2 separate regions of the Homo sapiens genome follow, and region 2 is linked to region 1. The links come from fine-mapping of genetic effects on plasma protein levels. Region 1 holds a variant in brackets. A gene starts in the other region. All regions are shown on their forward strands.

The links. PIP is the posterior inclusion probability: the model's chance that the variant is causal. The UK Biobank Pharma Proteomics Project read protein levels with antibody pairs (Olink). The fine-mapping took linkage between variants from a reference panel, not from the people measured, so its PIPs are less certain.
Region 2: ENPP5 starts here. The variant in region 1 is fine-mapped to the plasma level of the ENPP5 protein (UK Biobank, PIP 0.99).

The regions. Positions count from the first base shown.
Region 1 is chr11:16,341,738-16,352,865 of GRCh38, forward strand. All of the region lies in intron 1 of SOX6 (SRY-box transcription factor 6), which reads right to left. Among named protein-coding and RNA genes, the nearest start is that of SOX6, 9.2 kb to the right of the region's middle. The variant G/A (reference allele first, on the strand shown) is at 5,211.
Region 2 is chr6:46,164,684-46,182,087 of GRCh38, forward strand. ENPP5 (ectonucleotide pyrophosphatase/phosphodiesterase family member 5) reads right to left here and starts at 6,297. Exons shown (of 5, transcript NM_001290072.2): 1 at 6,125-6,297; 2 at 5,370-5,431; 3 at 2,751-3,614; 4 at 704-880. The coding sequence starts at 3,579. RefSeq lists a silencer at 6,469-6,528.

The DNA.
Region 1 (11,128 bases):
ATCAGGAGAGTAAATAATTCATAATCAAAGTCCTAAACAAATCTGATCCTGACTTCTTTGTTTACACTTTGCATTATTAGGGCTGGGCCTAACACTACTTAGTGCCATCTAAAGCTTTTTAAAAGACCTTTGAAATGAGTCAATTGTTGTAACTTAACTTTTAAGTGACATATTGATTGAGTGGCTGATACTGTTAGATTAGTTTTAGGGCAATTTTGTAGCATTTGAATTAAGTATCTGAAATAGCTATACCTCTATTTTATATTAGGAAGTATATACAAGATTCGAAGCATTTACCATGAAAATAGTAAAATGCCTACTGTGCATAATATTTAAAACCTCCAAATACAATATTGAACATTCATTTATATGCCCACAAATAAACATTGACTACACGCTACATGACAACGTCTCCATTCTGTGCTCTCATATAAAATCAGAAAACCATGATTATTAAATAGAATTTCAAAATGTTTAGAATATCATTTTATTAAGATGAATTTCTTGGCAAAATGGTTAGAAAATAAAACCACTGAAAGTGTATAACTTAACAGAAGAGGGAATTGAGCACTTTTCTAAAACTTTACATTGTTTTTAGTTTATTACATCTTTAGCTCTAAAACTGCTGTGTAATGAAAGGAATAAAATCTCCACCTTAATTGCTATTTAACATTAATTGATTTCATACCATTTTTTAAAAAATGCACAAATCAGTTAACATAGGAAACCACATGAGCATTTTTCAAATTAGCAAATCATTAACTTGCTAGTACTGTTTCTACAGACAAATAAATACTGATTAAAGGGTCTAGAAATCTGAGATTAACAGTTAAATTTACAAATCTGTCACACGCTTTCATGAATATTGCAGTGAAGGAAATATCAAGTGCAAAGAAAAATAATTAAGTTAATTCCAATTTAAACAGTAGTTTTTATGTAGCAGCCCATGTTTCACATAGGATTTAACAGCTAATGCTAAATTTCTCACAATTAATGAGGGGGCTCAGATTTAGTATCCTACAGTGAAAAAAATTAATATAAGATCAGCTAATCTAATTATGCGCAGTTCAAAATAAAAGTATTACAGGCTTTTGAAGTGCTTTGAAACATATTAAAATGCTGATACCAATTTATAATAATCATTCTACAAGTAACAAAAATTGTATCTATTAAATTTGATACTAGAAAATAAAATGGGGGAAAGGGAATGCAAAAGAATGCCTATAATTTCTTTGAGAAGAAATGAATTAAATGTTCTAAAGAGTGCTATATCAATAAATCAGATATATTCTTGATCAATTTATATCAATAATAACAAATGGACAAACATATACACAATTATGAAAAATGGTAGCCAATGGATGCTTCTTAGTATAAGAGAATTGCTGTATGGCTTACTTTACCGGCCCCATAACTACTATTAGTAAAACCAGGCAAATTATAATTGTTCTGCAAGTTTATCAAGAGCTTGCCACAAACAAGGGTGATTTCCTATTTCAGATACTGACAATATCAATAATCATTCACATTAAAAACAAAAGAATGAATGTACTTCTGCTTTTTAAAATAGTTCAATACAATTGAAAGTCATGATCCAAAAATCAGAGTGACTTTACTTCCCTCAACAAACATCCTCTTATTATAAAGTGAATTGGCTCCTTCCAATAGCAATGTCTATGATTGTTGCTTCAGTTTAAATTAATCATGACAAAACTCAAAATGAAAACAGTCTCTTAAGAATAATTTCAACTATAAACTGCACCAGTGAACAATAGTGCACAATCCTAATTAAATACAACTCTGCAGCTGTAAAAATAGACTAAATCTATGAGTTGAGTTTAAAGGATGGTTTGTTAGAATGTTTTCTTAAGGAAGGCTGGGTCCTCAGTCTTAATCAGCCAATAAATTATTTCCTGCAATTACATTAAATAGAAAATTATCTTCAAATGGGGAGTGTTAATTGAAAATCAAAATTCAGAGGGAAGTTTAGAAATTACACGCTGAATACAATTAGTGAGGAAAGGCTTCACCTCTACTTCATCAACAGTCTTCTGGTGATTCCTCCAGTGGCCATTCAGGAATGCTACCTATTTATAACATCTCACAATTTGTCTTTTATTTTGCATCTACAAATACATATGTGTATCAAGGTTGCAAATAAAACACAAGCTGCCAAAAAAAGCAATATTAAATCTGAGTGTTCATTCTCAGTTCACACTATCGTTAGAGGAAAAGGAGACAGGGGAGGTAGGACAACAACGGTTAACAATCAAGAAAAACACACTCAGTTTTGAAATCCCTTTCCTTAGCAAAGGAATTAACATTTTTTGTTCCAAAAATACTTTTCCAAATCATATAATTTCTTGTTTTTACTTTATTATAGTTCTCAAATGCATTGCTAGTGGTGAAAAAGATGGGTTTTGTTTTTAGCAAGGTATTTCCTTGAGCATTTCCTTTTGGTAGAATTGTTGGGGTTTTTTTGTTTACATCTTTTTTTTACATTTGGTCTTGTTGTTGATTTTTGTTTTGGGTGGCAGTTTTGAGTTTTGTTATAAAATGTGCACAAATTGTTTTTAATGCAGTTTATTAAATAAACTTTAGATTTGCTGATTATTAGATCTGATTCACTGATTTTTTGCATAAATACTTTATTAAATAATCCTGATGACATCTCATTCATTTCTTTAGCTTTCCCCTTTAAAACATTTTACTCAACCAACCAAACTGTATTCTAGAAGCTTCAATGGCACTTGACTTTTGGTAATGCCTTTACTATAACCACTGTACCATAGTTACTCTCCTTTAGAAACTCATAAATCAAATATACCCATGTTTCAGTGTTTTAAAATGTCATGTGGAATGCTTACATTTATTTTAATGCTCAGTCAGTAATTTTCCATTGCAAAAATTTTCATCCCCAACATATTAAAACAGCACCTTACTTTAGCTGCTGCCTTATATGACTAATAAGTAAAAGAAAATCAAAATCCTTGTGGAAATGGTCAATTTCGATGTGACTTTACTTTGTTTTATTTTTGCACTATTATAACTTAAAAATCATTCAAATGAATTGTTTTTTTAATTTGTATTAAAAAAAAATCTCCCTAGTTATACCCCCTGAAAACAGGGGTTTATAATGGAAGTGCTGACACAACCCTAACTAAAGCAGCGCAAATGTTGCCGCTATAATACACAAAATCAAGTTCTATTATTCTAAACTATCCTCGCTCATGGGATTTTTCTTTACTGTGCTCCCAGCCAAACTGCTGAAGCATGAAAAATTTAAATGCAATCAAATGCGCCCAATTCTACTTTACTAGAACAAGTGTCTACAGTGGTACAATCTTAAAAGGAGATGCAACAGATTTGTTTGGTGTTTTTTTTAACTGTTTATTTATAATACAGTGCATTGGAGATAAAATAAAAGAGGAAATTACACTCACATGGTACCAGTGTATTGACTACACAGAGTACATTATAATCAGAGAGAAAAACTACATTGTCAACTTATCACATTGGTTAAACAAGATGGTTTTCTGGGGCATAACTATTATCAAGTAAAACCTTCAAAGAGAATTATATATCTTTGGGACACATAAAACTAAATTCCCATCATATGTTCCCTGAGTTTAAAATGTCTCTGCCCAACAATCAAGTGAACTCCCAGGATGCCAGGCCATTGGGAAGAACTTCGGGCTTAGGACTTTTGGAAATGAGATTGCTGGAGATAAAGCCTCCAGTTACTGAGAATGTTCTCTAGGAAGTCAGTACGAACACCTCTAGAAAGGTCATAATTATTTTACTCCAAAACACCAGTACAAAGTCTGAATGTTTGGCCTACTACAAACTTACTCAGACAGTAAATTTATTTTCTGTTCTGCAACAATAAATCAAAATTAGTTGGCCCAAGACTTTATAAAATGATGAGAATGCTGGATATGTGCACATTAAGTCTTCTATCTCAGAATATCATATTTTCTAGAACTTTTCTGATTTGACATTATTCTTTAAAAACAGTTATTTTTATGTGTTTAAAGTCAGGATTATTTTTAAACAACTTCAAACTTTTAAACTTTCTCATAAGGCATAATCACTCAAAATTACATTTTTTTATTATAGCTTGAAAAGTATCCATCTTTCAAAACTGTCATTTGAAGCTTACATAATTATCAAAAAGAGCCACTGAATTCATCATAGCAATATATTTAACTGAATTTTTGAAAATATTTCCATTATTTTTATGATTATTATCAAATGGCATTCACTTTCCAGGTGTGTTACATTTATTCAAAAAAAGTCCTGTTTTTAACATAAAGCAACATTTTAAGAGTTGTTCTACTTATTCAAAAAAATTAAAACTTCAGGCCAACATTCCCATTTATTTTTGCAGCTCAGCCCCAGGCTACCAAGGTAGACTCATTTCATCAGATAATTCACTGTTAATATAATGCTGTACTTGAGCTGATATTGAGAAATAAACAACTAATTTTCCAAAAATATATCACAGTGCCTCTCATCTTAAGGAACATGAGTAACAGATATGTTTAGTTGCCAAAATGCACAATACCCAGGAACCTCTACAAAGGACACCAGTCCACCCAGCCTAGGGCAAAGAATGATTTTAAAACCCTCTTCTTCTATCTCTAATTTCCACATTCAAGGATCTTGGGGAAGGGAGGATGGCATGGTACATCCTAATTCTAGACATTAAAATGAAGACATTCCTTTTAAAACATTCCTCAATTCATTCCAGTAAAGTCGGAAGGTGCTTACTAATTATTTGTATTACTTTATACAACACCACCACCTCCTCTCCCCCAATCCACCTCCAAACTTCCCTCTGCTTCTGCCAGATTTTTCTATTTCTTCCATTAAGTAATTAAGAAAATTCAGGTGAAAAGAAGGTAACTGTTTTCAGAATTACCTTGGAAAGTTATAAACCTATCTTCTAGAGTTTGTAGCAGCACTTTCAGAACAGATATGGTAACACATGAGGACAGTAACTATTAGAAGAAAACTCACTGATTAGAATTAGCTGTCAAATCAATGGAGATGAGGTAAATGAAATACATTTGAAGCCCTTGAAGTGTGTCTAAGAAAGTGCTTAAATTAATGGATTCTGACTTTTCTAAGGGTCCAATTTTTCACAGCAAAGCACCAAAATTGTCTCCAAAGGCCCTCTGAGCTTCTTACAAAACAAGAACTACCTG[G/A]AACAGATTCTTCTTAAGTCATCAAAGTTTGTGTTTCTAGAGTTTATATTTAGCTGACAATATTGCTGTCACTTTATGTAGCTTAAGACTGTTCTTTGGACTAGAGCTCATATGTCTTGGAATGCTTTGACTCATGAATTGTTTCTCCTGATAATGTTACATCACGTAACTACCTCTGTCTAATTGGTTAGTATCTGCTGGAAGAGACAGGCAGCCAGCCTAATGACTGGCCTGCTGACTGACTGCCTATGGAAAACCTATAATTATTAAGTGTCCCTGAGTATCTGGTTTCTTCCTGGGATCAAAACAACTTGACTTCATGTAACCTCTATCTATACTTTTTGCTTGATATAAATAATATGGTCTTCTCACAGTTTATCTACCAATAACTTTTTGGAATTTTTGCTTTGGAAAGCCAGGCCCAGATTTTATAAATAAATTCAGTGACTTAACAATAAGAGTAAAACCTAACAATGGCTACTATAAATATACACTAACTTAGAGGATTTTAATCTAGCACAATGACTTTATAGCTCAACGAAAGACCTCTGTGTGGCTGGAGTGAAAGAAAGCTGTCTAAAATAATAGCAGAATGAATTTATTTATGTAAGTTCACTTTGAATTTCCTCTTCATATAAAATGAGAACTACAATTTTTTAAGTGAATAAACAGACATCTCTCTGTCAGCGTGAAACTGGCCCATTAATATGGAAGCCCAAGTACAGGATATCTTATCCAATTATATTAATAAAAATCATAAACCAGAACAATAACTTCTCAGAGACAAAGTGTAGGAAATTGTCACTGTATACTTTTCCATCCTTAACTCGAATTTCCCTCTTCAATATTTCCAGAAAAAAAGAGAAAAATGAATATTGATACTTTAGATTGTTTCAAAATATGAAAATTCACACAAACACTGAACAAATTTATATAAAGAAACTAATCTCTGAGGTCCTCCTTTAGCTAAATAAGGCAATCTACCAAGTCCACTCTTTCATGTGATGAAATAAGGTATAAGTTTCAGGTTCCTATTCAAAGACAGACAAGAAGAAGAGAAAGAAGAGGGAGGGAGGAAGGGAGTGAGAGTAGAAAGGGAGGGGAAGAGGAGGGGAAAAGGGGAGAAGGTAAAAGGGGAGGAGAAAAACAACCATGGCTTTGCAGTTCATTTTCAGTTTGTCTACTTAATGAAAACCTCATTGTACAAGCCTGAAAATCATTTCCAGCAGGCAAAGTACTTCTGATTCAGCAGAGGTTACACAAGCATCAAAGCAGTTAAATATAGGTGCCAAGCTGCATTGCCAGGAGCTCTTAGTACTGTGAGTTAGTGTTACCTGACAGCTTAGTGAATATAAAATTACTTGTTTCTCCAATTGAAGACAATCAAATTGTCACCTTCCATTGTAATAATGCACAACTAGTGATCAGCAAAGTGCAAACATAATTACCATGAAGAAAACAAAATATCAAATCTAAATTTTTCAACAGAGGAAACACATCTATCTTCTTCCCCAAAAAAGGAGTGCATTTTAATCCTGAAGGCTATGATGCAATCTTCATGTTATTTAATAATAAGATTTATTCATCTTAAATTAAATAAAAATGAAAAACAACAAGAAATACTAATTCATAAAAAGTGACTACAAATATTAATAAGAGCACTACAACTTTCCAGACATTTCCAAGCACAAAGACCTACAAATTATATCACTGCCATTTGAACCTATATCATTAAAGGGTATGTCAGCGCATTTTCCATTATAAAAACTTTGTTTTTAGAGATGTCTTTCTAGCCTAGCAACCTTCCTGAAGGTTGAAAAGGACAGGCAGGATTCAACTTCAAAAGCTTTTGTCTTAATTTTTCTTTAACAGAGAGTTACGCTTCGTTTTCGTCTTCTAAAGTAGCTTATATTTTTGATGCTGAAAATTCATCTCATGAAAGTGATTTAATATCTCTACACAAGTTTAGAAAAATAACCAAGCATAGGACACATATCCACAACTGTTTTTCAGACACTCAGCATCTAGAATTCTCATCCAAATTTGGTGACCATATTGGCTCACTACCAAAGTGATCTCAGTAACCTGAAGCTAAATTAATATTAAAGGACTGAAAATTTGACATGGTTCTCCCGCACTCCAAAGATTCCTAAGATACAAATTAAAATGAATATAATTAATATAGATAATGCTCCAAACAAACTGCATTTTAAAAGCTCTCTTAGAAAAGTGATTTTATTTCATAACTAACTCAAGATTTAAGACATTCAAATTTATATCATTCCTTCTAATACAGCAAAAACTCTAATCATTCTCCAAATACTCTAAATATAGGGGCTTTTTCCATCAATAATGTCATTTTTATCAGAAAATATGTCCTACAGCTAGGCCTGCTGAGGTGGCTCATGCCTGTAATCCCAGCACTTTGGGAAGCTAAGGCAGGTGGATCACTTGAGGTCAGGAGTTTGAGACCAGCCTGGCCAACAAGGTGAAACCTGTCTCTACTAAAAATATGAAAATTAGCCACCCATGGCGGTGCGCGCCTGTAATCCCAGCTCTGCAGGAAGTTGAGGCAGGAGAATTGCTTGAACCTGGGAGGTGGAGGTTGCAGTGAGCCAAGAGCGTGCCATTGCACTCTAGCCTGGGTGACAGAGCAAGGCTCTGTCAAAAAAATAAATAAATAAATAAGAAGAGGAAAGAAAACAGAAGAAAGAGAGGGAGGGAGGGAGGAAGGAAGGAAGGAAGGAAGGAAGGAAGGAAGGAAGGAAGAAGGAAGGAAGGAAGGAAGGAAGGAAGGAAGGAAGGAAGGAAGGGAAGGAAGGGAAAGCAAGCAAGAAAGAAAATATTTCCTACAGCTAATGCCTGATATGCCTGACATTCCATTTTTACCATATGCCTGATATGCCATTTTACCAATATTTCCTACAGCTAATGCCTGATATTCCCATTTTAACCATTTCATTTTTGAAATATTTCCTATAGCTAATGCCTGATATGCCTAATATTCCATTCCAATTTTAGAACAGATACTTCTGTTCTAAATAACATCATTTATGATCATTTAACACAAAAATAGACCAGTTTAGCAAAAAAGGGGGAGGCACTGACTACACCAGGGTGACAGTGAAATGAATTGAGGCTCATCAAGAGCATAGGCTCTCCTGAGCTTGAATCTTAGAATACAAATCCAGACATTAGAATAATGCTTTCATCTGGTATCAGTCTCAACTGGTGTTCCTCAGTCTTGCATTGTGTTCCTCTTTCTCCATTCCTCTATTTTATTACGAAGGAGTAGAGGAAAGAATGAGATGAAGACATTGGTTGAACATCGGTGGCTAAATCAGAAGGAAAACAAGGATAGCAAGCGACAGGAGAAAGGGGAAGTCCAGTCTCTAGCTGCACGTTTTATTTTGATTTGAGATAAACTTAACATCATTAAGAGAAGTGTCTGGGTGTAAGAAATAAGACGGTTTTAGAAAAACATCTTTTTCCTTGTTCTTAGAACTTTCAAATAATATAATACAATTTTTTCCAAGAGACACTTCTTATAAGCTCAGCACAATAAAAACCTCCCAGGCAAAGGGGATTGCAATCAGTATTTCCTAAACTTCGATGATGAGTAATTTAATCAATTCCTGAAATTATACTCCTACAGAGTATTTATTACAATATACTAAAATAAAAAGTATCAACGAGAGGAAGAAAAGGAAACTTCTTGTCAGAGAACATCTTTCAGACCCTGGGAGATAAATGCTTACATAGCATAAGCTCATGGTAAATGGGTAAAAGGAGAACTCATTAAAATATTTTGTTTAATTAAAAAACAAGTTAATTCTGTATATTTCATGAGGACAGGGATCATCTGTCTTGTTCATTGCTGGATCCCCAGTGCCCAGCACAGTGCACAACACATCGTAGACAATCAATACTATGGGAATGAGGGAGGAAAAGGCAGAGAGGGAGAGATAGGCAAATAGCTTATTGTTTTAAATTAAAGTGAATAGATAATCACAGAAAATACCACTCCATGTTAATACTGCCAATCTAAACATTATTATTTCTCTATACTGTTTTTATCAAGCATCTCATTAAGTCATAAGATTATTATATCCATATCCCCAACACTAAACTCTCTCATCTCCCAGAAATCCAACAGTCCTCAAATGACTGTTAAGTATTTATACCAAGATATGCTCTGCAATTTCATATTAAACACCTTAAAACTAGATTCATCACTATTTTCCTCAATACCTCCCCTCATTCATCCACACCCAGAAGAGTACCACTGTCAGAATCATCAAGGTTCAAAACATGAACACTCTATCCACCTCCTCATTTTTATCCTTGCTTCTCAATGCCAGCCAGTCATGAAGCTCCATCAGCTATTCTTTAATGTTTCTTATGCTCATCTCTCTTACCATACTTATAATCACCTTAGCACAGGGCTTTTTCACACCTCATACCTAAACTCTTACAACAGACCCTAAACTACTTTCTCTATTTTAGTATCTCCTCCACCAAATCAATCTTAACTGCTACTCCCTTCATCAAGCCACTCTCCTGATCAAAAAACATCAGTGGCTCTCCCCTGATGACAAAATAAAGTCCAAACTCCTGACCCTGGCACTTGAGGCCCTCCATCCAGATACAACCAATCTTTATACATTTATCTTCACCAGTCAAACTTCACTTATTGTTGCCTCCTAGCCTTTGCTCTGCCTGTCTCTCCCTATTTTCCTCACTTTCCTTTCTTAGTGTTAGGAAACCAACTGAGACTATTCCAGTTAACTACGATCTACCCCTCTTCTAAACACCTCTAATAAGATCTGTGAGAAATTACTTTTTATATCACTCATTCAACACTTAATGGATATTACCTCACATAATCTTTTAAAAATGTATAATATCATTATATTTTCTAAGTAACCCCAACCGCATTACAAACTTCTCAAGGGTGAGAACAAAATCCTAGCTTTCTCTGCATTCCCACAATACCTAGAACAATGTTTTGTGAAAAGAAACACTCAGTAAATACTTCCCAATTATTTAAATATTATTGAATTAATAGGCAGAAATAAATTTAGGGTGTTATCTTCAACCAGAAAAAAGTAGCCATGAAAAAGGACTTAAAATAAACTGGTTTCTGGGGGTGTCTCCTCTTTGCACACACTCTGGACAATAAATTCACCTCATATTTTAAAAGTTCTGCATATTCCCTGGCAAAGAAAGCCTCCCAAAATAATCAATTTATGTTGTCAGAAACATAAAAAAAGATGGATAAATGAATGAACCAATGGGCAGATGATGGATGGATGGATGGATGGATGGATGGATGGATGGATGGATGGATGGAAGGATGGATGGATGTTGAAGAGATGGTTGAAAAGATACATAGATAATTTTTACTAGATGCTTAGAAAGTACCAGGCAGGCACTGTGCTAAGCACTGCTACATGTATTATTTCATTTAGTTCTTAGAGCAACTCTAGAAGTTAAATAATGTCATTATCCCTGTTTACTGATAAGAAAGCCAAGGCACAAAACTGTTTATTAAAACAATAAAAATGAAAACTTGCTTAAGGTCATACCTAGTAAATACAGAGGGCAAAATTTCAACTCAGGTTGGTCTAATGCCAGGGCAGATGCTATTAGAATTAAAAGTGTCTGAAATCTAAATTAAATAAATTATTAACTATTTTCAATTATTATCTGAATTATTCTTTACTAATTTATACCATTCCTGTAGAATTTTATTTTGAATATTCTGGTTAGATATTCTAAATACTCATTTAATCAGAGCTTAGTAAAAGGATTTGCTATCTTTTTCTTTTCTGTGTACTTCTACAGTTTGAGATATGTAATTACTAGTTAACAACTTTAAAAAAGAGAGAGAAACATAGAGCAGGTAATTCTCTAAC
Region 2 (17,404 bases), not on the chromosome of region 1:
TGAACATTGGTTTATGGATCATTATCTGTATGTAAAAACTGTTTATTTTTTTTTTTTTGCTTTTTTTTTTTTTGAGACAGAGTCTTGCTCTGTCGCCCAGGCTGGAGTGCAGTGGCACGATCTCGGCTCACTGCAAGCTCCGCCTCCCAGGTTCACGCCATTCTCCTGCCTCAGCCTCCCGAGTAGCTGGGACTACAGGCGCCCACCACCATGCCAGGCTAATTTTTTGTATTTTTTTAGTAGAGACGGGGTTTCACCCTGTTAGCCAGGATGGTCTCGATCTCCTGACCTCGTGATCCACCCGCCTCAGCCTCCCAAAGTGCTGGGATTACAGGCGAGAGCCACCGCACCTGGCCAAAAACCGTTTTAAGAACCAGAAACCATGTATCTGTATACATCTGCCACTATGAGTCACGAGCACACTACAAATGCCATTGTTCAGGCATCTGCTTTTCTTTTAATCAATAAACATGATAGAAACCCAATTCTACCTAAAGGGACATTTTGTATATATCTTTTACATATCAAGGACCAATATCTAAAAAAAGCATTTTTAGATAAGTACGAAAACATTGTAGTTCCTTAATATTCAAGTAACAGACAGTAAAAATATCAATCAATAAACTGCTGTATTATGTATTTAAACTGTTGTATTTTAGCAAAAAGTAATGCAGAATGGAAAGAAATACTGTAACATACTCACACAGAAAGTCATCTGACTTATTCTGTAAAATGTGCCACCCTTCATCAGCCACTGCTATGATTGGTTGAATTCGACTGTTGTATTTGTAATGCCACCTTTCTGGAACGTCTTCTTTTTTGTAAACAGTAAGATTAGGATGAGCGTGAGTTAGTGCTTCATAGACTTCATCAAATTTACCTAAAGAGAAGGGAGGAGAGGCACTCAGAACAAAATACTCATAGCTACCATCAGCCATGGGCAACAGACTTGCTACGGAGGTGAAAAACCAGAGAGCTGAACATAAGAAAAAATTCTTTTTCCCCTTGGGGAAAACAATTTTGGGAGGGGAAACTAGGAAATAATCTTCTGTTGTAAGTTCACCTTATAGAATTAAGGAAGGGCATTTTATAGAACCAGAAACCTCTAAAGACTTCAATACACACACATATTAATTAGTGACACTATGTAAAATGTCTAGGGTACTGCAATACCCAAATAAAAATGGCTAGGTTCTGGTAGTTGTGAGTGCAGACACGAAGAATCTCCAGACAAGAAAACATGGTGAGGGGTGGGTGAGGGCTGGGAAAAGAGGCTGGAGGTGGAAAGCAGTTTGTAAAATGGAAACATCTGAAAACACTGGAGGTGTTGCCAAAGTACTCCCTATAACTACAAATGCGGTTACCCAGGCACTGTCTTTCATCCTCCTGTTTTTCAAATCCATTGCTGAGGTTGCATCCTTATCTTCTGCACCGCAACAAGAGGACATCATTCCAATTTTATAAAGGAAATCGAAGGGTTAATGTAATTTTCTCCCCTTCCATTTCCTCTTCCCTTCCCTCTTCCCTTCCTCCTTCCCTCCCTCCTCTCTCTCTCTTTCACCCCCTTCTCTTCCCTCCCTCTCTCTCTCTCTTTCCCCCTCAGTCTCTCTTTTTCTTTCTTTTTTTTCTTTCGACTGTGTCTCCCTGTCGCCCAAGGAGGAGTGCAGTGATATGATCATAGCTCACTGTAACCTAGAACTCCTGGGCTCAAGCAACCCTTCCACCTCAGCCTGGGACACAGGCATGTGTCACCACACCAGGCTATTTTTTTTTTTTTTTTTTTTAGCAACAGAGTCTTGCTATGTTGCCCAGGCTGGCCTCAAACTCCTGGCCTCAAGTGACCCTGCTGCCTCAGCCTCCCAAAGTGCTGAGATTATAGGCGTGAGCAACCACTCCTAGCTAATTTTCTTAAACCAGAAAAAAAGTGCTGTTTGCTGAAAACTGTGTGTGTAAAACACACACATATTTTAACATTCGCTGTTTCATATGATTCTAATTCCCCTCTGAGGGATGGAATTCTCATTTGTGAAATATTATAGCTTTTCAAAATCTGTTCTCTCATTTGATACCTAAGACCAACCCTGCAAAGTGATAAAATATGTCAAAGAGCATGTCTGAGTCATGTTGTCACTTATTTTGTGACCTCAGGATGTTAAACCTTTTGAGGTCACTTACCTGTCATTTACTTCTCTTTAAAATGGAGACAATACTGAGGTGACAGGTTTGGTATAAGGATTCCAGGAGAGGTTTGTAAAAAGTTTAAGGTATTGTTATTACTTTCCACATTTATAAGGAAAATAAACCTCAGATTGACCAAAGCTCTTTCTCCTTCTTATCTTCCACAGCTTCCTTGTTAAGCAGGTCCAAATTAGGAACCTATAAAAGGCTTTGGGGCTTCTATGAAATAACTGTACATGCATTCAAGTTTTGTATGTATCTTTCCATCTCAATTTTTCTGAGAAGGGAGGCTATAGCTTTCATAATATTCTATGGATCCAAAATGGTTAAAACCTACTGCCATACATACATAGAGCACATCAATTTCAGTATTCTAGGAAAAAGGAAAAAAAAATTAGGCTTTGAAAAAAGAGATTTTGTCTTTTCAGAGTCTGAGGATTAAATCCCAGAATATTACCATGACACAGGCAAAGTCTACTTTAAAGGCGCAGCAACAGAAATCCCTGTTCATTTGATCACACTGGGCAAATGCACATCTAGTCTCAGCTCACCATTCATTCAGTCAGCCTTACCTTCTTTTGGCAAGATGGCTGCTACTGGAGATTGATCAATCAGGGTATAGTGGTCTTTATCCAGGTACTGGTCAAGTTCTATTAACCTTTCCTCAGAGCACTGCGTCATTCCATGATCACTTGTGATGATTAGGTTCAGAGTGTTCCACAACTTTGCCTTTTTCAGCATTTGTATGAGATATCCTAACTTCTTGTCAATATCTGAAATGACAGGCCCCATGAGCGGACTGTCAGGTCCCAAATGGTGGCCCATGTCATCAGGGTCTTCCCAATAGAGAAGACCAAGATTTATGGGCTCTTTTGACGTAAACCATTCAATAATTTTGGCAACTCTATCTTCAAATGAAACTGACTCATTGTAAGGCATGTAATGAGTAGGAAAGCGCTTATGTATTTTTACATCTGTTCCGGGCCACATGGCTGCACCACTAGTATGTCCTGCCCTCTGGTTTGTGATCCATATTGGTGTCGCTTCTTCCCAAAACTTGGAATCATAAATATTCATGTGATCCAAGGAGAAAGATTTGTTCCGAATAGGATCAAACATATCATTTGCAACAATCCCATGATTCTCTGCAAAGAGGCCAGTTACCAAAGTATAATGGTTAGGGTAGGTTTTTGTAATAAAAACATTAGTAACTTGCTTCACGTGAACACCATATTTCATAATATAATGAAAATGGGGCGTTGGAACTTTATATAAGTAATCCCAACGGAATCCATCAAAAGAAACTAGTAGAACCTTTTGCTGGTCTGGTTGGAGAGAAAAGGTGGTTGAAAGACTCAGTGCAGCAAGTATGAAGGACACCAAGAGAAATTTCGAAGTCATTTTCAAAGTACTTGATCAGTTCAGTGTAAGATAATCTGTAGAATAAACATATAGAAATTAAAGGCAATAATTTTGTTTTGTATACTTTACCCCAAACTCAGAGTAACAGTGCTTAGCAATCCTAGTTATATTCATAAATCACAGCCTGGAAGAATTATGTCACAGAACTCCGTATTAGATAAGAGACCTGGGGCTAAATGAATAATAAAGCTAATAAGTTTAGCTGCATTTAAACAACTTTTTCACTTCTGAGAATTTATCTAAATATCCCTCAAAGGAATTATTTAAGTGAGCTCTTCAACAGCATTTTAAAATATGACATCATTTACATAAAACTTTTAGAAACATTTTCAGGTTGATCCAGACTTTTGACTTCTGGTCAGAAACTTTTTTATAGTCAAATACCTGTGAACATCCTTAACATTATGGCTAGAGCAACTATGGCAACCTAGCAACAATGAAGTATCATTAGCAAATCGAATAATGGTGCATATACATATATATTATATATATATGTATATGCACACTTCTATTTTCAACCCCTATGTTTGGTTAATCACAGACAAAAGATGTATTACTAAAGAGAGAGGAAAATAGATGAATTTGGTTTCTTGAAGTGAAATAACATTTGTGACATCCAGATATATTTATTGAAAAGTAATCTGCATTCATTTATTAATAATCAAATCACAGCATTCGTTGAACTAAATAATTAGATTCTAAACTAAATATTAACAGAAATATAATTCTGAAATTTGTTGTTGACTTTCCTAATGTTAAAATTTGTCAAAATTTAATCTTATCATTGATAGGTGTAGTAAAAGCACTTCCCTGGTTTAAAGCTCTGTGAATCAAGGTTGCTGGTCTTTTCCCCTAATCTGTGTATATTTCTAAAATACTTTCATTCTATTGAAGAAAGCTAATAAGACGCTGTATGGATAAACAATAGATATGTAAATTTTGTCAGTTTTCATCAGGCGTGCACATCCAGCAGGGATCTTTTGTTCTCTCATTTTTCTACCCATTCCTGCATGAAGGTATTTATAAACCCACCAAAACTTAGATCAAACCACACTTGTACAAATAAATCTCTTGAAACTGCCTTTTGATATCTTCCTAAGCTGAAGACTTCTTTTTTTTTTTTTTTTGAGAGGGAGTCTCACTCTGTTGCCCAAGCTGGTGTGCGGTGGCACGATCTCAGCTTACTGCAACTTCCGCCTTCCGTGTTCAAGCAATTCTCCTGCCTCAGTCTCCCAAGTAGCTGGGACTACAGGCGCCCGCCACCACACCCAGCTAATTTTTGTATTTTCAGTAGAGACAGGGTTTCGCCATGTTGGCCAGCCTGGTCTCAAAACTGCTGACCTCAGGTGATTCACCCTTCTCGGCTCCCCAAAGTGCTGGGATTACAGGCATGAGCCACCGCAGCCGGCCTGAAGACATTTTTAAACTTCAAAAATATATCCTGTTTCACCTTGCTGTATTATAGGTACAGGTAAATAAAAACTACTTGGCATGCTTGCTTTGCTTTCAGAAATACAAGGTATATGTACATTGTGGGTATTCGCTGAGGGCAATAAATTCTGTTTTGCTGGTTTTAAACTGTGTTTTCACCATACCTAGACATTTCTTAAACTGAAATTGTTTTAGGTATTGGTCTCAAGATGATAGCTCAAATGTCATATTTAAAAACGATTTCTTGGATGGCAATACTCTCTCTGATTCTGGAAGGAACATTAAACACAGTTGCAGCAAGGAATAGCAAATAGGTTACTGCAAATATATTTACTCACCTATCTGGCTATGGATGGTAGTTGCTCTCTCTGTCCTTTCTCCCCCTAATTTTCTCTCCCACCTTTTTAAAACAAGGAAGGCTAGTATCAACCAAATGTAATTTAAGGCTAAAAGCAGAGGAAATAAACTACATGGAACACCTCATTTTCATCTATCTTAGCAAATTAATTCGGCACATGTGTAAGCAGGAGAAAACTGCTTTCTTGGGACCAACAAAAGTAAGCAAAGATTAAGTGTTGTCTAAAGCTTAGGAATGTTTGGCAAGAAGACTCAACATCACATCCATGACACAGAGCAATAAACAGAGGTGGGGGGTGGGGAATGAAAACAATCAGAATTTTTTTTTTTTTCGTGCACAAAATGCTGCACAAAACAGTGGAATCCCTGGATCTGGCTCCACATTTCATTGAGTACTTTCCAGTTCTTTCTCCCCTCCAACCCTTCCTCCACAAACAGACTTGGAGAGCAGGAAGGACGGGGCACCGATTAAACGGAAGAGGGAAAGTGCAGAAGGAGTAGGTTTGTGTAGCTCGGGTAGACGTCAAGGGCGGGGGTGTCCATCTTCTCCACCAGGATTCCATCCTAGCCACCCAGAATGGTCGCGGCGTAGGTTATGTTCCCAATTCCCAGTCATCCCGCCCACCGAGGCCTGGGCTTCTTAGATGTGCAGTGGCAAGGAGGGGACGTTGCTTTAGGGACCCAGAGGAGCAGTGTGGGTTCCCGGGAGGGAAGCCACCCACGCCCCTGGACTCACCCTCGCAGCGATCCGTTCAGTCCGTATTAGTTTGGAGCAACGGGAGGGAGGGTCTGGAGGAGACTCCCTCGGGCGCGCCGCGGGTAACGGCGGGAGGGTGACTGGAGGAACGCCCCCGGAACGCGCAGGAGCTCACCTGCGCTCAACTCTGGAGCGGAGCACCTGACCGCGCCGCTTCCCCGCCCCGCCTCCTGGCTTCTATTGGCTGCTGCAGAGATAGTCACTTCTGCCTGGGTTGCCCCCGAAAGCCAGGCTCCCAGGAGTAGCTGCACGGCCTGTCAATCAGCGGGGGCAGGGGCGGGCGCTGCCTGGGTTTGGAGGGTGGAGGGGGAGGGGACTCCCGGGGGCAGGGACCCATCTGGTAGGGCGAAGGCGTGGGATGGCCAATTGCTTGGTCACACACAAAACCTTCCGGCAACGTGCCTTTTCCAGGGGACCAGCTGTGCTGGAGTCAGTGATGCTGAGAGATTATTGCGTGTTACCCCAATGGTGGGTGTACTCTAACAGTCACTGTTTTTTGTTTAAAAGCGACTTGTATTCTCTGATTTCTTATCCCAGGCTTTTTTCCTTCCCCCGCCCCCCGCCCCCTGCCTTGTCACGAATTGGCGATGGGGCACACCATGGGCTTTGCTCTGAGGAACACCTGCACACCCGAGGATGCCAATGGGACGATGAAGTTTCATTCTTTTTATTAGTGGGTGTTATCTGCTTTACCTCAGAAAGAATTTATTAACCTAGTCAACTCTGCAGCCCCAACGTTTGCAGTCCAGGTTTTTGCAATTGAGGTCCCTGAGGTATATTTGTGGTGTACCTAGCATGGCACCTGAAATTGTGCGAATTAAACCAAGACAGGTTCAGAATTAGGTTAATTTGCACAGGAGAGAGGCTGAACAGCCACCCTCTCTGGTGGTGGCATCCGAGCTCCAGACTCTGTTTCTACCTTTGTTTGCAAAGTAAACATTAAAACTACAAACATCAGGCCTGATTACTCTTTCAGAAAGCCTTCAGTGCTTCTTGTGTGTTAGTGCCCCTATTTTGTCTTTTTCCGTACTGTAGTGGATTATTTTCTCAGTTTTTTTGGGATAATCAATGGCATTTTTAGGCCTGAGGGAGTGTAGGCAGGTACTTAGTTTGCCAGTATGATCCCAACTGTCTTTACCATAAATTATAGCAGTGATATCAAACTACCCTGAAAGAATTTGTCCATCTACACAATCCCAGCTAGAATTCTGACCTAATTAGAATTCTAGTTCTATCTGCAGTAGGCAATAATATCAGGTTGATTGTTACAATGTAAGTTTAACATCTAATTAGCTGGTAAAACTGGGAGCATATCTGCAATGGTGGTTTTGGCTCCTGCCCGGAGCTCGGATCCCTTGTCTGGTGTGCTGGAGCTTTAAAGTGAATAGAGATATCTGTTGATATTTAATTAAGCCATGCAAACATTTTGGTCATAGCTTTTTCTCTGTCTGCTTCTAATAGAGGGACAATCTCAACCCCAAACATTGTTACCTCCTAACTGGGTCATCCCATCCCGAAGGGCATCTGGGCACTCTTCCATGGCCTTTTATTCGTGGTAACTTGAGTTTATGGTTTTCAACACGTGGGATGGGGATTAAGAGGGAGGCTGGTTTCTATGTTTAGTGAGACCCAAACACAATGAAGTTGAACAAGTTGTTCCAATTCCCCAAAGCCCTGTCCTTTGAAATTGCCCAAACTTGGAACAGAGTGGTCCAATCTTGTAAGTCCTTGTCCCCCAGAATAGGTCAACTCTGTGCTCTCCCAAAACACTCAAAGGACAATGTACGCTTATCAGAGAGCAGGAGTGGTGAAAATGGGCCTGACTTTTGTTCGGATCACTGAACATTGTTGGACTCTGTTTGGATGACAACCTGCTTTGCTCTGCAAATTTTATGGAAGTTATGATTATATTCACCAGCTATTCCTGTGAAATAGGCATGGTACAGCTGGTAACCACAGTGCACAACACAGAAAAGTGCTCATAAGACTGCCAGATTCCTCCCAGAAGTCCATATAATGATATCTAATGTTCACCTGATAGGCTTGCTATTACCTTATGTTGTTCATGGGGAGAAAGTCTGGTTTACATAGTATAGAGGAATGAATGTAAAACATGAGATTCCTGCTCCCACATCTGCACCTGCCCTCCTGTCTTATTGTTGCCTCAGTATCTGTCTATTTGCAATAGGTTTTCAGAAAGTTTTAGCAGCAGAAACCACAACCTGCTATTGACTGTAACTATTCTTTTATTCTCTGTTATTAAATTAGTGGAATTCTAATTGAATAATAGTGTAACAGAATAACCAACTTCTTTCTTTCAAAGGTTTTGGGGTCAGGTGGGGAGGGAGATCCCTCTGCCTCCCCAAGGAAGTCTAATACAGGTTGAGAGAGGGACAATTTTCTTCGTCAGGGGCTGGAAGAGCTTTGTGCTAAAACTGAAAAGGGATCTGTTCTTTAAGAAACAACCAGAACTGGCTCTACCACAGAAGTCTTGTTTTTCAGAACTAGACTTCATGATAGGAAAAATAAACACATAATTTTACAATTAAAAAATTTTAAAGGTGCATTCCAGTACATTATACCACAAATGACTAAACTAAAAGAAAGTTCATCTTTTAATCCTTTGTAGAACATTCTGCAAAATGTGGGTCTCACATATTCAATGGCCATAGATAGGAACCACTGGGATTCTGCTTCTGCACTGCTCTTAATTCATGATAAACAGTGGTCTTCACTAATCTTGACTCATTAGCAGAAGTTCAGTCCAATGAGTGAAATGTTGAATTATAGAATAGTCAAAAACTTAGCCCAAGAATTTTTATGCATATTAATAAATTAGGCTTCTAGTGATATGCTTGAACTAATTAGAATGAATTTTGTAGAAGCAATTATTATGCTTTTATCCTCAGAAAGCTTTATATAAGTCAAATATAAACCTATTTGTATTGTTGTATTCTGTAAATTGTATTCATAGTGTTTTAGTTCTAGGACTGCCTTAACAAATTATCACAAACTGGGTGACTTACGACAAACAGAAATGTATTCTCACATAGTTCTGGAGGTCAGAAGTCTGAAATCAAGATGTATTCAGGGCCATGCTCTCTCCGAGACTCTGAGAAGAATCCTTGCTTGGCCCTAACAGCTGCTGGGGATTCTGGTATTCCTTGGCTTGCTGCAGCCTAGCTCCAATCTCTGCCTCTCCTGTCACAGGATGCTCTACTCTGTGTGTCCCTGTGTCACGTGGCCTTCTTATAAGAACACCAGTCATTGGGATTAAGGCCCTCTTCAGCCCAGTATGGCTTCATCTAAATTTAATTACATATGCAAAGATCCTACTTCCAAATAAGGTCACATTCTGAGGTTCCGGGTGAATGTGTATTTCGGAAGGACACTTATTCAACCCAGTATATATAGCTAGCAGAAAGTTTAATTTTATGGCCCAGCCTAGATCAAAAGTTGATGGATTACTAATAAAATGGCTCAAATCAAGGTAACTGACAACATCTGATACTGACAAGGATTCAGAGCTATAATATATTGCTGGACTATCATACACTGCTGGTGGGAATGGACTTCCACTATGGAAGTCAGTTTTGAAGTTTCTTATAAAGTTAAATATACACGTGACATACAACCCAGGAATCTCACTCCTGAGTATTTATCTAAGAGAAATGAAGACAGACGTCCACTGAAAAACCGGTCAACAACTTTTTACAGCAGCTTTATTCATAATCATGTAAAGCTAGAAACCATCCAAATGTCCCTCAACTAGTGAATAAACAAATTGTAGTGTGTCCGTAAATGCAGTACTGTTTGGCAGTAAGAAGGAATACAGAACTCATGCATGCAACAACATGGATGAATCTCAAAAGCGTTTTTCTAGGTGAACGAAGCCAGACACAAATGGCCATACACTGTGTGATTCTGTTTATATGATATTCTAGAAAGGGCAACAATGGAAATAGAAACCAAATCAGCATTTGCCAAGGACTAGGGGTGAGGGGAGGGGATTGGCTAGAAAGGGGCACAAAGAATTTTTTTATGTGATAGAATTTTGATTGCTTTTGTAGTCACATCACTAAGTTTGTCAATATTCAGAGAACTATGTGCCTAAAAATGTTTAATTTTACTGTGTGGAAATTATACCTCAGTAAACAGCAGCAACAATAAATAAACCCTACCCTGCGATAATACCTCACACCTCACCAAAGTTCACAAATTGGTGCTGGTGGTGTTTGACTCTCAGTGGCCTTTCCTGTGTGTACGGGTGTATACCAGTTCTTCCTGCAGGGTGTGAGTGCTTGCAAGTGCAGGAGCTCCACGGGGCCTGCTCTGCTGGGTGTCATTCCTTTTCCCTCATGAATGAAGTCAGGAAACTATGAAGTAAAACCAAAACAAGGCTAAACAATTATTTTCTTTTTCTTTTCTTTCTTTCTTTCTTTTTCTTTTTCTTTTCTTTTTTTTTTTTTTTGGGATAGAGTCTTGCTCTGTCGCCCAGGCTGGAGTGCCGTGGTGTGATCTTGGCTCACTGCAACCTCTGCCTCCCAGATTCAAGCAATTCTCCTGCCTCAACCTCCCGAGTAGCTGGGATTACGGACACGCGCCACCACACCAGGCTAAATTTTTATATTTTGCGAATCACAAAGTCAGGAGTTCGAGACCAGCCTGGCCAACATGGTAAAACCCCGTCTCTACTACAAATATTTTCTAGGCCATAACTGAATGTCATTTGTTGAATAACTAACTCAGTGCAGGATGCAGTCATATAGCAGGAGAGATAGTCATCTTTTGGTGTTGGTTTGAGGCCTATTTTGTAAGACATATTCTCAGGAGCCAAATACGAAACTGCACATGTGTTTGTGGTATATGGGGTGAAAACATTTTGTTAAAACCACATTCTCAGTTCTTTGTAAAGCACATAACACCCCTTAGATGCCTGAACATACTTAGTTTAACATCACTATTTAAAAACTTATTGGCTCCTTATGGGTATTGTAATTCTGTAAATTTACTAGCAGTGGGGGAGGACCTAAAAATATTGTCCTCTATCCAGATCAAAAATACATTTTTCCACTCTAGGTATTTGCACTTAAAATGTAAATGTAAATATTCTTTGCAACAATTTTGTAGCTTGAGGTTGCACCAAGGAATTCTTTGGTAAGTGTGAATCTTTATGAACAGGCCAAGCAGGCAGCAAGTGCTTTATGCCTTTAAGGTGTTCTTGGCAGGGAAGGGGCGGGGGATGTCATGGGAGAGTTCTCCCTGCCCAATTCCTGGATGGTTGCAATTTCATAATTGGAAATTAATCTCTTAGCCTTAAGGCTTTTCTCTCAGGAGAGATGTCATATGCACCACCTCTATTAGCTATTTATATACACGTGTGTGACTAAGGTTGTCTGATTCGCTCCAATTTGCATAATTGGTTGGGGAGAAAAGCCCTTAGAAGAATGCAGGTGGGTTCTGTCTTTCAAAGGTTAGTAAATACAGGGGGCAGCTCTAGAGGAAAGTGAAAACAGAAAAAGGAAGGGGAGCAGACTCTAAGCTGGCATCCCTCATAATTTGCTCAAAGCTAGTCCTGTTCTTTGCCCATCATTAAGCAGCAGATCACTGTAGGGAAGTCCGAAGTCATAGGCAACAGAGGAACCTGGCTTATGAAGGTGCTCTGATTTGACCTTTGTAAAATTTTGAATAGCCTTTCATCTAGAAAATGCATGTAATGTATAAAATCCTTGAGAGCTTTGCTATTCTTCTAGTCACTTTCATCCTTACTCCTCCACACCTGTTGTCTGATTCCACAAAGGACTCCATCCTCCCACACCTTGCTTGGGCAATCTCCTGACCTATATACTTCTCTGCTTTCTAATGAGAACCCTATTTTGTAGGAAAATCCATTCAGTGTGAATGGATTTATGCTGATCTACTCATCTATTCTTGCTAGGACATACTACATGTTGGGGTTCTTTGGCCAGAGTTAGCTGTTCTAGTCATGGTGATGGGGCTGTTTTAAAATAACAGGCTGATTTAACCCGTTATTTTATTTTATTTTATTTTTGAGATGGAGTCTCCCTCTGTTGCCCAGGCTGGACTGCAGTAGCGAGATCTCAGCTCACTGCAACCTCTGCCTCCCAGGTTCAAGCGATTCTCCTGCCTCAGCCTCCCGAGTAGCTGGGATTTTAACCTGTTATTTTTTAAAAAAACAAAACAGGTTTATTCGTGATTTGCTTAACATAAAATGAAATGTGATTCATTTAATATAAATTTATCGATTTGAATTATACAATTCAGGGTTAACTGGCATTTTAAGGCCTCATTGGCCTGTTTCAACCAAGTGATGTAACTGAGAATGATCATCTGTGGAATCACTGAAATGTTCATTTATTCACAGGGTAATCATTGAGTCATGATTCTATTTTACACTCATATTGTGCTGCTGGTTTTTGAAATCCATTTTGAAGATGGTCAACAGCATTACTGAGTTCATTTCTCATGGCCGCACACTATGCTCAGTGAGAATTGGTGGCTTAACCAAAGCTGCATATCTAAACATTTGAAATCAGGGAAAAATAGAGTAAGTTCTACAACAGAGGAACAAACAAAAGTGATATAGAAGTGCATGGGACAGAGAAATTAGCTCTGACTGAAGAAGACATGGGTATTCCACCACAGAGGTAGGAATGGAGAGTCTGGTATTGAAGCAGAGCCTTGGAAGATGGTGGGATTTCAACGAAGCACGTGAAACAGAGAAGACTGTAAGAACATGCACCTGGTCAGAGGGCCCAGGTGTGCTTGTGAAGGGCCTAGAAAAACTGGTTTAGGAATTTGGGGTCAGTCCTGTGGGCAGTGGGGGGCAGTTGAAGGTTCTTGAGGAGGGGCATGTCATGACCAGAGCCACGAACATAATTCCTGAATCACAAGTGGTGCGAGGTGGCACAGTAGTTTAGCACCTTGACATTTATTTAATATCAATCTGTAATTGATATTAAAATTAACGTTGCTTCTTTGACTATCTCCTTTGGCAGGAACTACCAGTTGTCATACCATACCAAGGCTAACCCATTCTTATGACCTTTCTACTGAAAAATGTAAAGCACTTTGGCTTTTTGTTTACTGCATATTGAGAGGCAGTGAGCATTTCTCTTCTTGTTTCTTCTTGGCAACATCTATTAGCCTGTTCCTAATGCACTGTGTGGCATAGCTTATTAGGTTGTGTTTTTGGTGTTACCCCAATTTTGGGATATGAATCTGTCATTAAAACACAGCCCTGTGAGTCAGAAAAAATAGACATGTTAGTGTGAATGAATGTATACTTTCTGGTCATTTTGAGAGGTGACATCATTGTCATATACTATACTTTTTTTGTAATATTTTGTTAATCACAAAGTGAATAGTGAAGGGGATGGTGTGCAAGACAAGGGAAAATGTTGGAGGGGCATTTCAAAACTTGCCAGAGTGTGTAGTATAATTTCATTGAAAAAAATGATAACAAATCAACTCCACTAAACAACTGTATGTAGGAGTAGGAAGAGTAGAAAAGAGATGGGTGGCAGAGAAACAATTTTAAAGCCAGAAAAATGGTCTGTATGGGTGGTGAAGGTATTATAGTATGAAAGGAGTACATAACAATATTACTAGAATTATAATAACAATGCTTATTAATTAGTGGCAACCAAATAGCAGACACTGTGCAAAGCAACACATACTCCTTATGTCACTTAGTTCTTATCATAACCCTGTGAAATACAAATGAGTCTTTTCCTATGCCAGCTCAGGAAAGAAAATCCCAGAGAGATTAACTCACTGAAGATCACTCAACTAGTAAATAGCAGAACTGGACTGCTCATTAATCTCAGTAAGACCCAGAGGGGAACACGAGAGAGACATTCTGGGGACAAAGTTGATCTTCGGACTGACACAAACTTAGGTCCATAGAAACCATGCCCTGGGGGTTACTGACAAGTAGTCTGTGGACTTCATGTCAGAGTTGGGGATTCCAGATTCTCCAGGAGGTCCTCAATGGTAGAATCTGAACAGTGGAGAGCACAGTAGAGGAGTGTCTAAGCCCAGTTTTGGATCCATGAAGGGAAGATTTAGTATTTTGACAGCCAGTGGAATAACTCATTTCTATTATCAGGCCATGTGGGGATAGGGAGCTCTCGCAGCCTCTTCCTTCAACAGTCAGTAAACAGAAATGGTGTGAGAGAGACAAGCAAACAAGACTGGAGTTGCCATCCAGAGATGGGCACCCCTGTGATGGACATGGACCTTGGTATTAAAATGACCTTGGTTGAGGATGGCTGCTCAGTATTGAAATAAAAGGTAGACAGACTCATGAGTAGGGATTTGAAAACCTTGAAGGGTGGTTTATAGGAGGAAGCATGGGCATCAATAGTCAAGGCAGCATGATCATGACAGAATTGAGAGAGAGAGCCCTGGACTGCCTAAGTGAGGATCAGTCAATTCCAAACTATTTAATACTAAGGTGAGTAGCTGCTGTGATCCTAGCCCTGTGATGGGAACTGAGAAAGGTGGATACAGGGAGGAGTAAGATATACTTCCTGACTCCAAAGGGATGGAAACACTGCTTAAAGAGATGACACAAATGCACATGAAATCATTACAAATGGAAGAAAATTGTATTAAATCAAACACTAAATTGATGCTTTTTGAAGGTCTCATTTTTGTTTGGGGAAGAGTTATCCCTCCAATGTCTGAATGCTCAATAACATTCTGCCTTCCCAGTTCACCCTATTTTCATTTCCCTCTAAGCTGCTATGGGCTTTTTTCTTTTAGGAGATTCCACTACTAATGAATGCTTTGAAGAAATAGTATTAGTTTAGAGAGGAACAGTGGTGGTCACAGGACTGTCTTGGGAGGGGTTTTAGGCTACCTCCCATAATCTTCTTTATCACTTGTATAAAATCTCTATATAGAGCTTTGGGCAGAGCTTCGAGCAGCACACTTGATTGTCCACTTTGTATGGAAGGAAAAGTGACCTTAGGTAGCAATAGGTAGTGGCGAATGATTTGGCTAGTTTGTTCAGGGCCTGGAAGGACCAGAATGGGAAGAGTGAGGACAAGGAGGCAGGGGAAAGAGATATGTGGGCCCTATAGTTGGTGGGCACCAAGCATGCAGATCTGTCTGTCTTGTGGTGATGCCCAGCAAGCCTCTTTTGCAGAAGGGGATCTCAACCATCAGGTGGACAGGATGAGTAAACCTGTGGATGTCAGCCAACATTTCTTCCTGGTTATTGCAGTACCAGTGCAATTTGGCATTCAACGGTGGCAGGAATAGAAGTATGCAAACACCTAACAGAATGGGATTCAGTTCACAAAGGGCTTATCTAGCCAGTGCTGAATGTCAGCCTCAGAGACTGATGCTAACCCCTCAATTGAGGAAAACAGCAGCAATTTGTCCTTACCAGAGGTTACATCTACACCAAGTATGATTCAACACTTCAGCATGCCTGATCTATCAATATGGGATCTCACAACATTTCCTCAAATAGGGGACCAATTTTGCTGCAAAGGACATACAACAATGATTACAGGATTCACTGGTTCCACCATATATCCCATCACCCAGAAGCAGCTGGCCTAGCTGAATGATGCAATGGGCTTAAAGGCTCAGCTAAGTGGCCCTCTCCGAGAACACATTCTGAAGGTTAGAGCATGATCCTCAATTTTGGGGTATATGCATTGAAATAAGGACTGATACATGATGCTCTATCCTTAATGGTTAGAAAACAGGTCTGGTAACCAAGGAAATAGAAGTGATCCCTACATGATCATCCCCAGTGACCTATTTGTGAAATTTGTTCTTCCTGTCTTCTAACCTTAGGCTCTGTTAGGTTAGAGAACATCGTTCCCAGTAAGGGCTATGTCTCCACCAGCAAAGTGAGGATTCTACTGAATTTGAAGCTGGGTCTACCACCTGGCCATCTTGGACTCCTCATGCCAGTGGATCAGAAGGGAGTTATAGTAATGTTGGGGTAAGTAACCTGCTTTTCTTGAGGGGAGAGGGTTGATACTACATAATGGGAACAGAGAGGAATATGCTTACTTGTATATCTTCTATCTCTTTATTCTTCTGATTGCCGAGAGATTGCCTCTTTGTCTGATTTTCTAATTCACAAATTTATTCTTTAGCTGTTTCTATCCTTTCTTTATCCCACCTTTGGTGTAGTTTTTCAGCTATTATACCTCATATATTTTCATTTTTAATGATTTTTTATTCTTCTTCATATTACTAATAGCTTGTTACATCTCTTTAAGTATATTTATCATGTTTACATAAAATTCTTGTTCTATCTCTTTTAACACTTTTGTTTCAAATGGTATATCTTAAAGATTTTTGGATTTTTTGAGGTAGTTTTAAATTGCATTATTATTTTGGATTTTTAATTTAGATTTCTCTTTAAATGTTTTAATAAGTAGTGGGGAAGGGCTGAAGGCCAGGTCCTAGCCTAAGCTAAGTTATCCTGATCCAGTTAAGGATAAGTGAGGGTCTAATGCCTGAAGGCAGATGCTTATTCCTATAGACTATCTTGGGCAGATGCTTATTGCTATAGACTATCTTTCAAGATTCTCAAACTCCTATCCACAGATCTTTCCGCCATTTAAAATTAGTTCTTGTGTGTGGTGTGAAATAGAGTGTAAGTGCAAATAGGAGTCTAAGTTAAAGAAAAAATTTTTTAATAGCCAATTGTTCCAGTACAATTTTTAAAAGGTATTTTATTTGCTTTTAAATTGCTTTGGTTCCTTTATCATAAACAATTTGCTTTATAAGCATGGATCTATTTCTGGCCTCTCAATTCTAGCTCATTGACCTGTTTGTCTGTCTTCTTATCAATACTACATTGTCTTGATTACCAAAGCTTTGTAATAAGTCTTGAGGTGAGGTAGTGTGAGTTCTCCAACATTGCTCTTTCTCAAGATTGTTTTGACTATTTTAGGTCCTTTGCCTTTTCATATAAATGTTAAAATCAGCTTTTCTATGATCCTTTTTCTATCTATTATTTTTCTATAAAAATGCTGGTCTGGCATGTAATTGGGATGACAGCAGATCTACATACCAATTTAGGGAGAACATTCAAGCTTACAATATTAAGTATTCTGGTGCATGAACATGGGAAATGACTCCAGTTTTCAAAATGAGCAAATTGAGGTTTAGAAAGCCTAAATGATTTGATAGAGTTATAGACCTGAAAGCAGCAGAAGCTTTTTAAATCTATTTACAATTAATTGACTCACCAGAATGGCC